Linked DNA regions of Homo sapiens. The protein of the gene in region 2 interacts with the protein of the main gene of each other region in a pairwise test. Each region holds a gene or a part of one and is shown on either strand. Other genes may lie near its edges. The genes, in order: TRPV2 and NTM.

What was found.
Region 1: the proteins of NTM (region 2) and TRPV2 interact in a protein complementation assay, tested with the Homo sapiens proteins (one study listed by IntAct).

The regions. Positions count from the first base shown.
Region 1 is NC_000017.11:16,425,306-16,432,590, forward strand, and holds part of TRPV2 (transient receptor potential cation channel subfamily V member 2), read left to right. Parts: intron 1-793; coding exon 794-964; intron 965-1,416; coding exon 1,417-1,572; coding exon of another isoform or gene 1,573-1,584; exon of another isoform or gene 1,585-1,585; intron 1,586-2,143; coding exon 2,144-2,242; intron 2,243-3,011; coding exon 3,012-3,082; intron 3,083-3,511; coding exon 3,512-3,677; intron 3,678-3,894; coding exon of another isoform or gene 3,895-3,954; exon of another isoform or gene 3,955-5,014; intron 5,015-6,478; coding exon 6,479-6,545; intron 6,546-6,660; coding exon 6,661-6,995; intron 6,996-7,285. UniProt on the Homo sapiens protein: Calcium-permeable, non-selective cation channel with an outward rectification. Seems to be regulated, at least in part, by IGF1, PDGF and neuropeptide head activator. May transduce physical stimuli in mast cells.
Region 2 is NC_000011.10:132,332,508-132,337,500, forward strand, and holds the end of NTM (neurotrimin isoform 9 precursor), read left to right. Parts: exon of another isoform or gene 1-256; intron 257-2,538; coding exon 2,539-2,639; 3' UTR 2,640-4,315; downstream 4,316-4,993.

The DNA.
Region 1 (7,285 bases), on a different chromosome or scaffold from region 2:
GAGCCGAAACGCCCAGCCTGCAGCTGCATTTTTAATGCCTAGAGCTTTGACTAGCTGGAAGTTATTCTGGTAGGAAGAGTAAACATGAGGCAGCCCCCACTTTGTTCCAGATAGCTTACCAATGGCCTGTTCCAAATAGCTTTTGCCAATAGCTCACCAGGGCTGGCCTCATGGGCTTACAGTGGAGATTTTTGAAAGATTAAGGAAACGATAAACATAAATAGAAGTTTTAACCCTTTTTCGCTGCCCTCCCAAGTTTTTTGGAGTGCTCCCTGGGGTGTGTGAACCTCACTTTCTTGTCTAGAGGCACTGCTGTGTGGCCTATGAAAGCAGTGTCCTGATCTGTTCCTCCTTTCCCATTCCTCACGCGTGAAACCAGACTGCTTCCTAACCTGTTTGGATTAGGGACCACTTTCTAGTCTGTTGAAAATTCTAGATTCTGACCGCGAAAGTGCACACACAGATACAGCTAGTAGACTCTGATCTCAGGGGCCTCAAGGACCCCAGGGCTAGGGATCAATCTGCCATTTGAGGAGTTCAAGGAAGGCCACAGGGCAGGGGAGGGGAAGGAAGAGCCAGGCTGGCTGGCAGGCTGGGGCAGATGTGGCTGGGTGCGTGTGTGTGTTTAAGAGTTTAGACAAACAAGGACCTGCGTGTATGGGGGTACGTGCACGTGTCAGCTGCAGCTCTGCAGACCGTGGGCAGCTGCTGAGTCCTGGGTGTTTCCCAGCCTTGGCCCAGGATCAGTGCCAGGAAGGGACCATGAATGCAAGCTCATATGGCCACCCTGCAGATTTTCAGGCACATCCTGCAGCGGGAGTTTTCAGGACTGAGCCACCTTTCCCGAAAGTTCACCGAGTGGTGCTATGGGCCTGTCCGGGTGTCGCTGTATGACCTGGCTTCTGTGGACAGCTGTGAGGAGAACTCAGTGCTGGAGATCATTGCCTTTCATTGCAAGAGCCCGGTGAGCCCACAGGAGCATGGGTGCACGCAGAGGACCCAGCAGAGTTTCCAGCAAGGTCCACAAATTGGGGCTGCCTGCTGGACCATATCTGCCCCATTCCTGTGCCAGTGGGGGTGTGGCTGCATGTCCCAGCAGGCACGACCCTGACCATGGCCACCGGGCCCATACTCAATCCATACTCTAGTCCCATCCAAGACGGGGATCATGCCAAGGGCCTCGTGGCAACCATCCGGGTCCTCTCTGTTAACCAGCATCTCATTTGGAGGGCAAGCCCCTTAGTCACACTGTAGCTGGGAGGGTTGGCGTGAGGTCCTTTGGGGCTCCTGGGGTGTGGAAGCCTGCTCCCTGTCCTCTCTCCTCATTTCCTGGGCCCTTGCTTTGATCTTGACATGGAGTGGGCAGCCTATTTGCACTTGTTGAGTGTACCCATGGCTCTCCCCTCCCCACCCCAGCACCGACACCGAATGGTCGTTTTGGAGCCCCTGAACAAACTGCTGCAGGCGAAATGGGATCTGCTCATCCCCAAGTTCTTCTTAAACTTCCTGTGTAATCTGATCTACATGTTCATCTTCACCGCTGTTGCCTACCATCAGCCTACCCTGAAGAAGGCAAGGGCGTGAGGTTTGGGGGGGCACATCTTGGGGGAGGCCTGCTTGAAACAACCCTGGGGGAAGATGGGGCAGTAATAGTGCTGAGGCATGGGCTGCTGGAGTGACATTCCCAAGCTTATGGGAGCCAGCACTGCAGTACTAACGGTGATACAGTGAAGATTTGCTGAGTGCTCACTGTATGTGAAAAAGGATTCTAGGTGATGGACATGTGTTGACTAATTAATGTGCCCCAAAACCCTTGAGATGGTGAATTATAATCACCCCCAGTTTATAGTAGAGGGAAGGGAGGCACAGAGAGGTTAAGTAACTTGCCCAGGGTCACACAGAATGGAAGTGGTGTGGAGAGGGAATCTGAATCCAGGGAGTCTGGCTTCAGACCCTACACTGAAATGCTACACAATGTGCCTCTCAGGATCCAGGGGTCCTTCCCTGGAGCCCATGTTCCCATGCCGTTCTGAGGAGCCTCTCCACAGCTCAGGCTCAGAGTAGGCCCTCAGCTTCAGCTCTGAAGGGTGAGCTGTTCGAGAGAGGACCCAAGGCCCTAGGTCTCATCTGAGTGTGTCTTCAGCAGGCCGCCCCTCACCTGAAAGCGGAGGTTGGAAACTCCATGCTGCTGACGGGCCACATCCTTATCCTGCTAGGGGGGATCTACCTCCTCGTGGGCCAGGTGAGTGCCCCTCCCCTTCTCCTACCAAGAAGCAAACCTAGAATTCTGCTTCAGGGGGCTTAGAGAAAGTTAGCTGCATCCCCTCACTGACAATACCCAGTCCCACCCAGAGCAACCAGCCTCACTGAAGCTGAGGGCCAGAGGTTCTGGCCTTGCCTTCTGAGTCCCCAGGAACCCCTCTGCTGTGCTTTTGGGGTTCCTTGGGGTAGCAGATAGCTTCTCTGATTCCTTGGCAGTACAGACTCTGCTCCCCCAGGAATGGAGCTGGAAGCGCCTGCCCCTAGCCAGGCCCCTCGGCTGGGAAGCTCCCCTCTTGGGGAGCACAGAGACCAGAGGTAGGTGGGGTTCAGGCTATTTCCCCCAGTAGGGCCTCTTCAGTGGGAAATGCTGTAAGCCTGCAGGACACAGGCTGGACACCAAGACATTGGGACCTCCGCAGAGTGGGCAGAACTTGGGCACCAAACGCAGGTTGGCTGGGGTATGGGTGCTCCCTGTGAGGCCAGGGAGAAGGGAAGGGAAAGGTGCTCTTCCCCTTCCTGCATGCAGTGCACAGGCTCTTCACCTGCACCCCCCGGCCTTGCCTAGGTGGCTGCTCTTTCTGGAAAGAAAGTCCCAAGCTATCTCAGCTATCAGAAGTATTCATGAGTCCCCCAAAACCAAAGCTGCTGACTTAGCTCTAGCCTGGGTGGCAGGCTCCCACTCAGCCAGGCCAGCAGGGGGCATGCGGGAGAGCAGGTTTCACAGCCCTCTGTCCTCCCTTCCTCCGCAGCTGTGGTACTTCTGGCGGCGCCACGTGTTCATCTGGATCTCGTTCATAGACAGCTACTTTGAAATCCTCTTGTACGTGGGTTCTCACTCCTCCTTCTCTCAACTGTCTCTGAGGTCTGGAAGGGGCAGTTGTGGCAGAAGGCACCAGGTTGGCTTTAGAGGCGAGGACACGGGGCCCAGGAAGTCGGGATCTGTGTACAGGCCAGTCCCAGGAGTCTGGGCTGCCGTCCAGCCTGGGGCCCCTTGTGCTCCCATCACTGTAGATGGTGATAGTGACATTTACTAGGCCTCGGCACATACCTGTTTCACTTAGTCCTTGAAAACACTCTATGAGTCAGGCATCATTATTATTATGCCCATTTTACAGTGGGAGGGAACTGAGGCCCACAGAGGTTAAATGTCTTGCCTAAGATGGAGGTCAGGACCTTGGTCAGCATAGGCCAGTGGGGGCTCAGGGAGCCAAGTGGCCCGCAAGCCCACCTGGATTCTGCTCCCACACAGCCTGTTCCAGGCCCTGCTCACAGTGGTGTCCCAGGTGCTGTGTTTCCTGGCCATCGAGTGGTACCTGCCCCTGCTTGTGTCTGCGCTGGTGCTGGGCTGGCTGAACCTGCTTTACTATACACGTGGCTTCCAGCACACAGGCATCTACAGTGTCATGATCCAGAAGGTGAGAGAAGGGGGTGGCCCACCGGGACTCTTTTGGCCTCATCAGGCAAGAAGAGCCTTCCTCCACAGCTATCCTAGGCAGAGGAGGGCATGTGTACATCTGCCTGTGCGCCAGCACTCAGATGCTTGCTGGATGGAAGCTTAAGTACAGGCCTGCACATACCTCTCTCAGGGCTCTGCATGCACACGCAAACAAACGTACATATGTGTGTTTGCAGGTGTCCACACGGGAGCATGTGCATCCTTCCACAAGCAAGGAGCAAAGAATATGTGCATAAGCTCATCTGCATGTCTGTGTCCTGCGATGTGTGGGCGCGGGCATGTAACTGCATTCATTTATGTATTCAGCGCATGTTTAGGGAGTGCCTACTGTGGGCCGGGCCCTGTTCTAGGTGTTGGGAATATAGCAGAGAACAGAACAAGTCCTTGCTCCCCTGAAGCTGATGTTCTGGTGGGAGGAAATGAAAACCTTAAGAAAACAACTGAGAACATTCCACACTGCTAAATTCTATGAAGGAAAAAAAAGCACAGGACAATGTGATGCAGAATGGCTGGGACCAAGTACCCTTTAGATGGGATGGTCTGGGAAGCCTCTCTAAAGAGGGGATGTTTAAGTTGAGACCTGAAAGAATGATTCAGCCACAGCAGGGTGAAGAGGAGATATTCTCAGCAGAGGGCACAGCAGTGGCTGCCACGAGCCAGAAGGAGCTTGGGGTGCTTGGGACAGGGTGAGGAGGCTAGGTGGCTGGGGAGATGGCAGGAGGGTGGAGGTGAGGAGGTTGGGAGGAAGGGAAGGGCCAGGGGCCCCTTCCACGGGGAGGGATTTGGAGGTCCCCAGAGGCTTTTTTTTTTTTAATTGTAGTAAAATACACCTAACATGGAACTTTTTTTTTTTTCTTTGAGATGGAGTCTCACTCTTGTTACCTAGGCTAGAGTGCAATGGCACCATCTCAGCTCACTGCAAACCCCTACTCCTGGGTTCAAGCGATTCTCCTGCCTCAGCCTCCCGTATGGCTGGGGTTGCAGGCACCCACCACCATGCCCGGCTAATTTTTGTATTTTTAGTAGAGACAGGTTTTCACCACGTTGGCCAGGCTGGTCTCAAACTCCTGACCTCAGGTGATCCGCCTGCCTTGGCCTCCCAAAGTGCTGGGATTACAGGCATGAGCTACTGCGCCTGGCCCATTTTAACCTTTTTTTTTTAAAGTATACAGCTAAGTGTCATTAAGTACATTCACACTGTTGTATAACCATCACCACCATCCAACTCCAGAACTTTCTTGTCATCCCAAACTGAAACTCAACACCCATTAAACAACTCCCCATTCCCTTCCCCCAGTCCCTGGAAGCCACCATTCTAATTTCTGTTTCTACGAATTTGATGACCATAGCTACATCGTAGAAGTGGAATCATACAGTATTTGTCCTTTAATGTCTGGCTTATTTTACTCAGTATAATGTCCTCAAGGATCAGCCATGTTGTAGCATGTGTCAGAAATGCCTTCCTTTTTTTTTTTTTTTTGAGATGGAGTCTTGCTCTGTTGCCCAGGCTGGAGTGCAGTGATGCAATCTTGGCTCACTGCAACCTCCGCCACCCAGGTTCAAGCGATTCTCCTGCCTCAGCCTCCCGAGTAGCTGGGACTACAGGCATGTGTCACCACATCCGGCAAATTTTTTTTATTTTTAGTAGAGACGGAGTTTTGCCACGTTGGCCAGGATGGTCTTGAACTCCTGACCTCAGGTGATCCACCCACCTTGGCTTCCCAAAGTGCTGGGATTGCAGGCTGAGCCATCACGCCCAGCCAATTCCTTCCTTTGTAAGGCTGAATAATATCCCATTGTGTAGATACACCACATTTTGTGCGTCCATTCATCTGTCGATCCAGTCACCTGTTGCTTCCACCTTTTGACCATTGTGAATAATGCTGCTACGAACAAGGGTGTAAAAGTATCTGTTAGAGTCCCTGCTTTCAATTCTTTTGGGCATATACATACCCAGAAGTGGAATTGCTGGGTCATACAGTAGTTCTATATTTTATTTTGTGACCCTGGAAGGTTTTTTTTTTTTGTTTTTTGTTTTTTGTTTTTTGAGATGGGACTCATTCAGTCACCCAGGCTGGAGTGCGGTGACACGATCATAGCTCATTGCCGCCTTGACATTCTGGGCTCAAGCAATCCTCCTGTCTCAGCCTCCTGAGTAGCTGGCACTGTAGGCTTGTGCCACCATGCCCAGCTACTGGAAAGTTTTAAGCAGGAAAACAATGTGATCTGAGACATATATATATATATATATATATATATATATACATATTTTTTTTTTTTTTTTTTTTGAGACGAAGTCTCACTCTGTAGCCCAGGCTGGAGTGCAGTGGTGTGATCTCGGCTCACCACAACCTCTGCCTCCTGGGTTCAAGTGATTCTCCTGCCTCAGCCTCCTGAGTAGCTGGGATTACAAGCACAGGCACACCACTGCACCTGGCTAATTTTTTGTATTTTTAGTAGAAACGCGGTTTCACCATGTTGGCCAGGCTGGTCTTGAACTCCCAACCTCAGGTAATCTGCCCGCCTCAGCCTCCCAAAGTGCTAGGATTATAGGCATGAGCCACCGCACCCAGCCAGATCTGAGATATATTTTTAAAAGACTCCTCTGCTCGGTGTGGCTCCACAGGCCCACATATGCATATGTATGTGTGCGTATGTGCAGTGTACACGGGAACCATGCTGCTGTGGGTGAGGCAGGGTTCTGGGGTCGTGACTGGTGGCCCAGCTACCCACCCTGGCCCCTGGGCACATGTGTTCCAGGTCATCCTGCGGGACCTGCTGCGCTTCCTTCTGATCTACTTAGTCTTCCTTTTCGGCTTCGCTGTAGGTAAAGGCTCCCTCCGGCCCCCTCCCCCTTCCCCACGTTCCTTGTCCACCCTGTACACTCCCAAGGCTGCCCACCGGTCTCCTGGGCTAAGGACCCCTCTCCCTTCATCCCATAGCCCTGGTGAGCCTGAGCCAGGAGGCTTGGCGCCCCGAAGCTCCTACAGGCCCCAATGCCACAGAGTCAGTGCAGCCCATGGAGGGACAGGAGGACGAGGGCAACGGGGCCCAGTACAGGGGTATCCTGGAAGCCTCCTTGGAGCTCTTCAAATTCACCATCGGCATGGGCGAGCTGGCCTTCCAGGAGCAGCTGCACTTCCGCGGCATGGTGCTGCTGCTGCTGCTGGCCTACGTGCTGCTCACCTACATCCTGCTGCTCAACATGCTCATCGCCCTCATGAGCGAGACCGTCAACAGTGTCGCCACTGACAGCTGGAGCATCTGGAAGCTGCAGGTGCCACCAGAGAGGCTCCCTGCCCCCACCCCACCCCACACTCAGGCGGTGGGGAGTGCTCCGGACCCTGCGGAGCTGGGCCTTCCCTAGCCAGGAGATGCCGGGTTGGGCAGCTCTACCTTGTCAGTCTTCCTCTTCCTTTTTTTTTTTTTTTTCTGGAGACAAGGTCTTGCTCTGTCACCCAGGCTGGAGTGCAGTGGCACGATCACAGCTCAATGCAGCCTCGGCCTCCTGAGCTCAAGTGATCCTCCTTCCTCAGCCTCCTGAGTAGCTGGGGTTACAGGCACCTG
Region 2 (4,993 bases):
TTTTCTAACACAACAAACAGGTGAGGACACGACTCGTCTTTACAAGCTCTCTGTGGTGCTTCCCAGCATGGAGCAGATCCACAAAAGAACTCTGAGGGGCGTAGCAAGGAGACCAAACACAGGCACCCAGGGAGAGCGCCTGGCATAGCCACAGGGCCATTGAGATCTGCCACAGGGGGTGTTTGCCCGCTCTCAGTCGTCTCCCGAGCTGCAGAGTCCCCAGCCTGGAAACAAGGTTTCAGCATTCCCTTACATGGTAACTACGCCAGGCCCCTGCTGGGCTGAACACCTGGCTGTGGCATTCTCCTCCCTGGAGGCTTCCACTGGCAGGTCAGGCTGCAAGGAGGGAGTTCAGAAGAGAGGAGAGAACACCTCAGTGCAGGGAAGCGGCACTTGTTTTCCATCTCTTACCCAGGGCATCTTCTTAGTCACAGGGAGGGAGCGGGAGACGGGAGGTGGGAGTGTGCGGGAATTGAACAGGAAATGGGTTTCAAAGATGTGTGTGGATGTTCAGGAGAGCACAAGGGATGAAAGAGGCAGAGCAGTGTGCTGACAGCTGTGTCCCCTGCCGGGAGTTAAGGACTCCAGTGTGCAGGACACGTATGGAATTGTACGGTGTGATTCACGCATATGAAGCTATCTTCATATGAATGTGAACACTCACAGTGTTGAGGCAAAACATTCGACCTGGCTTCCATAAAGGCCTGCTGGGCCATATGGACTCAGAACCACCCTTGTCGTCTCAGAGTCCTCAGCCTCGGGCACAGACAAGGGCCTTGGTTGGAAGAATCTTGGAGTTGCCTAGAGGGGAAGGACTTACGCAGAGCAGAGAAACATAGTCTCTCACCCTTGAAGGCATCCGGCGGAGGCTTCTCTCCTTTGATTCCAAAGAATGTGCTCTGTAGATGACAGAGTGAGCATCTACAAAGGGGGAACGTCTGGTGATGGTTTCTGTGGACACATAGTAGTTAGATTCTAGAAGACACAACCAGTTAGTGACCGATCCTAAATGACAAGCATTTCTGGGTTGAGATTTAAATCCGCAGGAGCTTTACAGGAGTGCTCCTTGGTCACCTGTATCCTAGCACAGATGCCTTTGGTTTTGTGTTTTCTCCTTAATGCAGGGTAGAGAGAATAAGTATCCCCTGGGCTTCTCAGCATGGGGATCTGCACCTCTGAGAAGTTCCGGCCTTAGGGATACTGTGAATCAGACACCAGGGAAACATGAGGTTGATGACCTATTGCATTTCAATCTCATGGCTACCTATTTAGCCACGCCCCCAAATTAGGGATTTATCCCAAAAGGCCAAGACATAAAATCATATGGGCACTGCCTCCTAGCCAGGAGTTCTAGACTTGATGGAATAATCCCACATGGAATTGAGAAGCCTGTTTTGATTTTGATTTGTTTTAGCCAGAAATGTATCCAACGCTGAGCATCCAAGTCAGGCAGGCAGGTTCTGGCTTTGTTCCTTGTTCCCTAATCCAGGAAGACATGGACTTAGTGAGGCCACCAGCTTTAAATACCTCTATTAAATTCAATGCAACAGAGTATGCCAGAGCAGGTCCAGTCTGAGGAGGTGGCCTGGTTCCTTGAGTAGCTAATTCATCTGGGCATCCAAACTTATGTACTCTACAGAAATCAAAGCTCCACTGGTCATGGGGTTTCTTGGCCACAAGGGCCGAGGTAGCCAGAAAACGTATGTTTCAGAACAATAGGGAAGCTGCTGGGGAACTGTACTGCCTTGCAGTTCTCCTGCCTCCTGTGTTTGTCTCCATCTCCATACACTGGGGCAGGTTCTGCATCCCAGTGTCCTCATTGATCTCCAGTTACATCCACATGCACAGGAAGGCTTCCTGTTCCTTTGTTTGACTCACCTCCATCCATGTGGGCTGGCTTCGGCCTTGCAGGCATGTGATCCTTGAGCTGCATCTGCTCTTACCCCATCCAGATGGGGAAGAGGTCAAGTGCTCCAGGTGGAACCCAGGTGCCCTGCCCTGAGATAGAGTGATTGGCAGGATGGCCTCTGTGCCCAAGGAAGCAGAAGCAGCAGGCAGACACATTGTTTTGTCCAACAGGTTCTTTTCTGAGCCACAGGCCAAGCAGCTGGAGGGTGGGTGAGTATTTCAGGCAGGCAGTGCTCAGAAGTGGATGGGTGATGAGGCACTCAGCACAGTAGTCTGACTTTATTAAAGCTCTGTGTAGGATATTAATGAATCTGCCACCTTCTTCTTGAATTTGAGCCTGAGCCATGGCCTTTGCATGTTATGACACAGTAAGGAAGAAGGCCCAGGACACTTTAACCTGAGCCTCATGTTCTCTCCTTGCAGGGGAAGGCTTCCCGTTATCTAGTGTGTGTGTCTTGGGGATGTGGGCCATAGAACGTTCACTTCTAATGCTGGGGCTGGAACACCATGTGTTTCACTTAGAGGGATGACTCACCAGGGGCAAGGCCAAATGACAGCAGACCAGGCAACCACCGGGCTTTCCTTCCATTTTCTCCCAGACCACTCACGGCGAGTGTGTTCTCTCCACAGGTCCAGGCGCCGTCAGCGAGGTGAGCAACGGCACGTCGAGGAGGGCAGGCTGCGTCTGGCTGCTGCCTCTTCTGGTCTTGCACCTGCTTCTCAAATTTTGATGTGAGTGCCACTTCCCCACCCGGGAAAGGCTGCCGCCACCACCACCACCAACACAACAGCAATGGCAACACCGACAGCAACCAATCAGATATATACAAATGAAATTAGAAGAAACACAGCCTCATGGGACAGAAATTTGAGGGAGGGGAACAAAGAATACTTTGGGGGGAAAAAAGTTTTAAAAAAGAAATTGAAAATTGCCTTGCAGATATTTAGGTACAATGGAGTTTTCTTTTCCCAAACGGGAAGAACACAGCACACCCGGCTTGGACCCACTGCAAGCTGCATCGTGCAACCTCTTTGGTGCCAGTGTGGGCAAGGGCTCAGCCTCTCTGCCCACAGAGTGCCCCCACGTGGAACATTCTGGAGCTGGCCATCCCAAATTCAATCAGTCCATAGAGACGAACAGAATGAGACCTTCCGGCCCAAGCGTGGCGCTGCGGGCACTTTGGTAGACTGTGCCACCACGGCGTGTGTTGTGAAACGTGAAATAAAAAGAGCAAGAAAGAAAAAGGAAACAAAATAAGACCGTCTGACAGCAACAACGGTCCCACAAACAAGTCACAAAAGATACCGTTAAACTTTTTTTTTTTTTTATCATTTTACTACATGAACATCATGGATAACAAGGGATTCTGATTCATTATTAATTTCATTAATTATATTTTCTGATATGAGTCTAGAACTTACTGCAAAAACAAGACAAAACTAAAAAAATACAACTGAGAAGGGTGAAGAGAAGTATGTTTGTTAAACAGTAAAAATGAATAGTATACTTCTTAACTAGGTTTACAACTGGTGGACCACACACCAGGCACTAATCACCTGGTGAGGATTTGGCATATCCACCAAAAAATGCATCCGATTTAACCAACATCTCCACCAGCGCTACGGACTCCTCCCAATTCTGACATCTCTTGCAGACAATACTATGCTCTCTACACACTGTTTAGAAATGGAAAGGTGATCTGCACTGTATCTTGGGTTTGTTGGCTATGCTTCCTTTGATGACATATATTATACAGTATATATATACATATATTTTTTTTGTTAGAGTTCTAGCCATTTTATTTCTCCGCAGGGTCCTTTCTCAGACATTACTGCATGCTGTATATGGCGTTAGCTGTGTGTTGATCTTCTAAAAGATGATAGAGTTTACTGGTAATTGTGTAATCAGCTCCTGCCTTTTTATTTTCTTGGGTTATTTACATGTCAGAGACATTTATAAAAAGTGAAAGGATAAAAAAAAAAAAAAACAACTAATACCGGGCGCAGCATCTTTCCAGGTGTGGCTCTGCGCTAGGCCACCCCAGGTGGCCCCGCTTTCTCCATTCTGCCCTGTGGCGTTAACAGACAGCAAGCAGCTGAACAAGCAGTACCGTCAGTACCCACTTGCTTTAGCCCATTATGGGAATCTCTGATGCCTTTGTGACCACTGGAGAGTTTAATCCTCTTGGTTTATTTTATTTCCCACCTTTGTGTGAGTGTGTATGAAAGAGAAGAAAATGCAATTTTTAGGTAATCTTTTTTTTTTTTCCCCTCCCCTGAAAGTCTGGGAACCTGAGAGTCCTCGGGGAGGGGTCCTGGATGTGATGAGGGAAAGGGGGATTGGGGGATCCGGGAGGGTGGGGTTGTCTCTGACTTGACATTAAAAAGTGTTCCATGTCCCTCTTCACCTGGTGTGGTACCTCATTCTACAGCGGGGCGGGGGCACAGCCTGCCTGGCTCAGGTTTGAAGAATGGGGGAGGATGGGCTCTTAAACCCTCCTGGGATGGAGTGGTGGCAAGTGCTGAGATGACAAACAGGAAGGACGTGGGACCTCCTCCATCCCCGCACAGAGGCAAGGTGAGGGTGCGTCTGATAGGGACTGCATTTTCAGTGCCTTCGGGAGGTCCTGGCCAGGGCTGCCAGTGTCCTGCTTGTGCTCAAACATCTTACCACACAAGTGGGCAAAGGTCAAGTCTAGTCAGGGAGAAGACTTTAGGCCCAATTATTTCTGGGAAGCAGCAGAAAGTCACTGTCACGGAAAACAAGAAAACCCCCGAGAGCCAAAAGAAATCTCCCCGCAAAAAAACAAAACAGAAAGCCAGCTTGAAACATTGTGTTTAGTTTTAAATAATCTCCCATCAACCAGTCCTCCAAACCCAACCTCCAAACCTCACCTCTAGCCACATAAGAGGAACTGAGAGACAGAAATGGGTCCGAGCCAAAACACTCAGGAATGACGGCACTTGCATTTCCAAGTCACCTTCACCTGAGAGGAACCAGGAAGGACTGGGATGGAGCTGTGTCATTTCCAGTTGCTTCCGGCAAGACTGAAGAAAGCTATTGACTTCTTCACCTTTCTTTGTG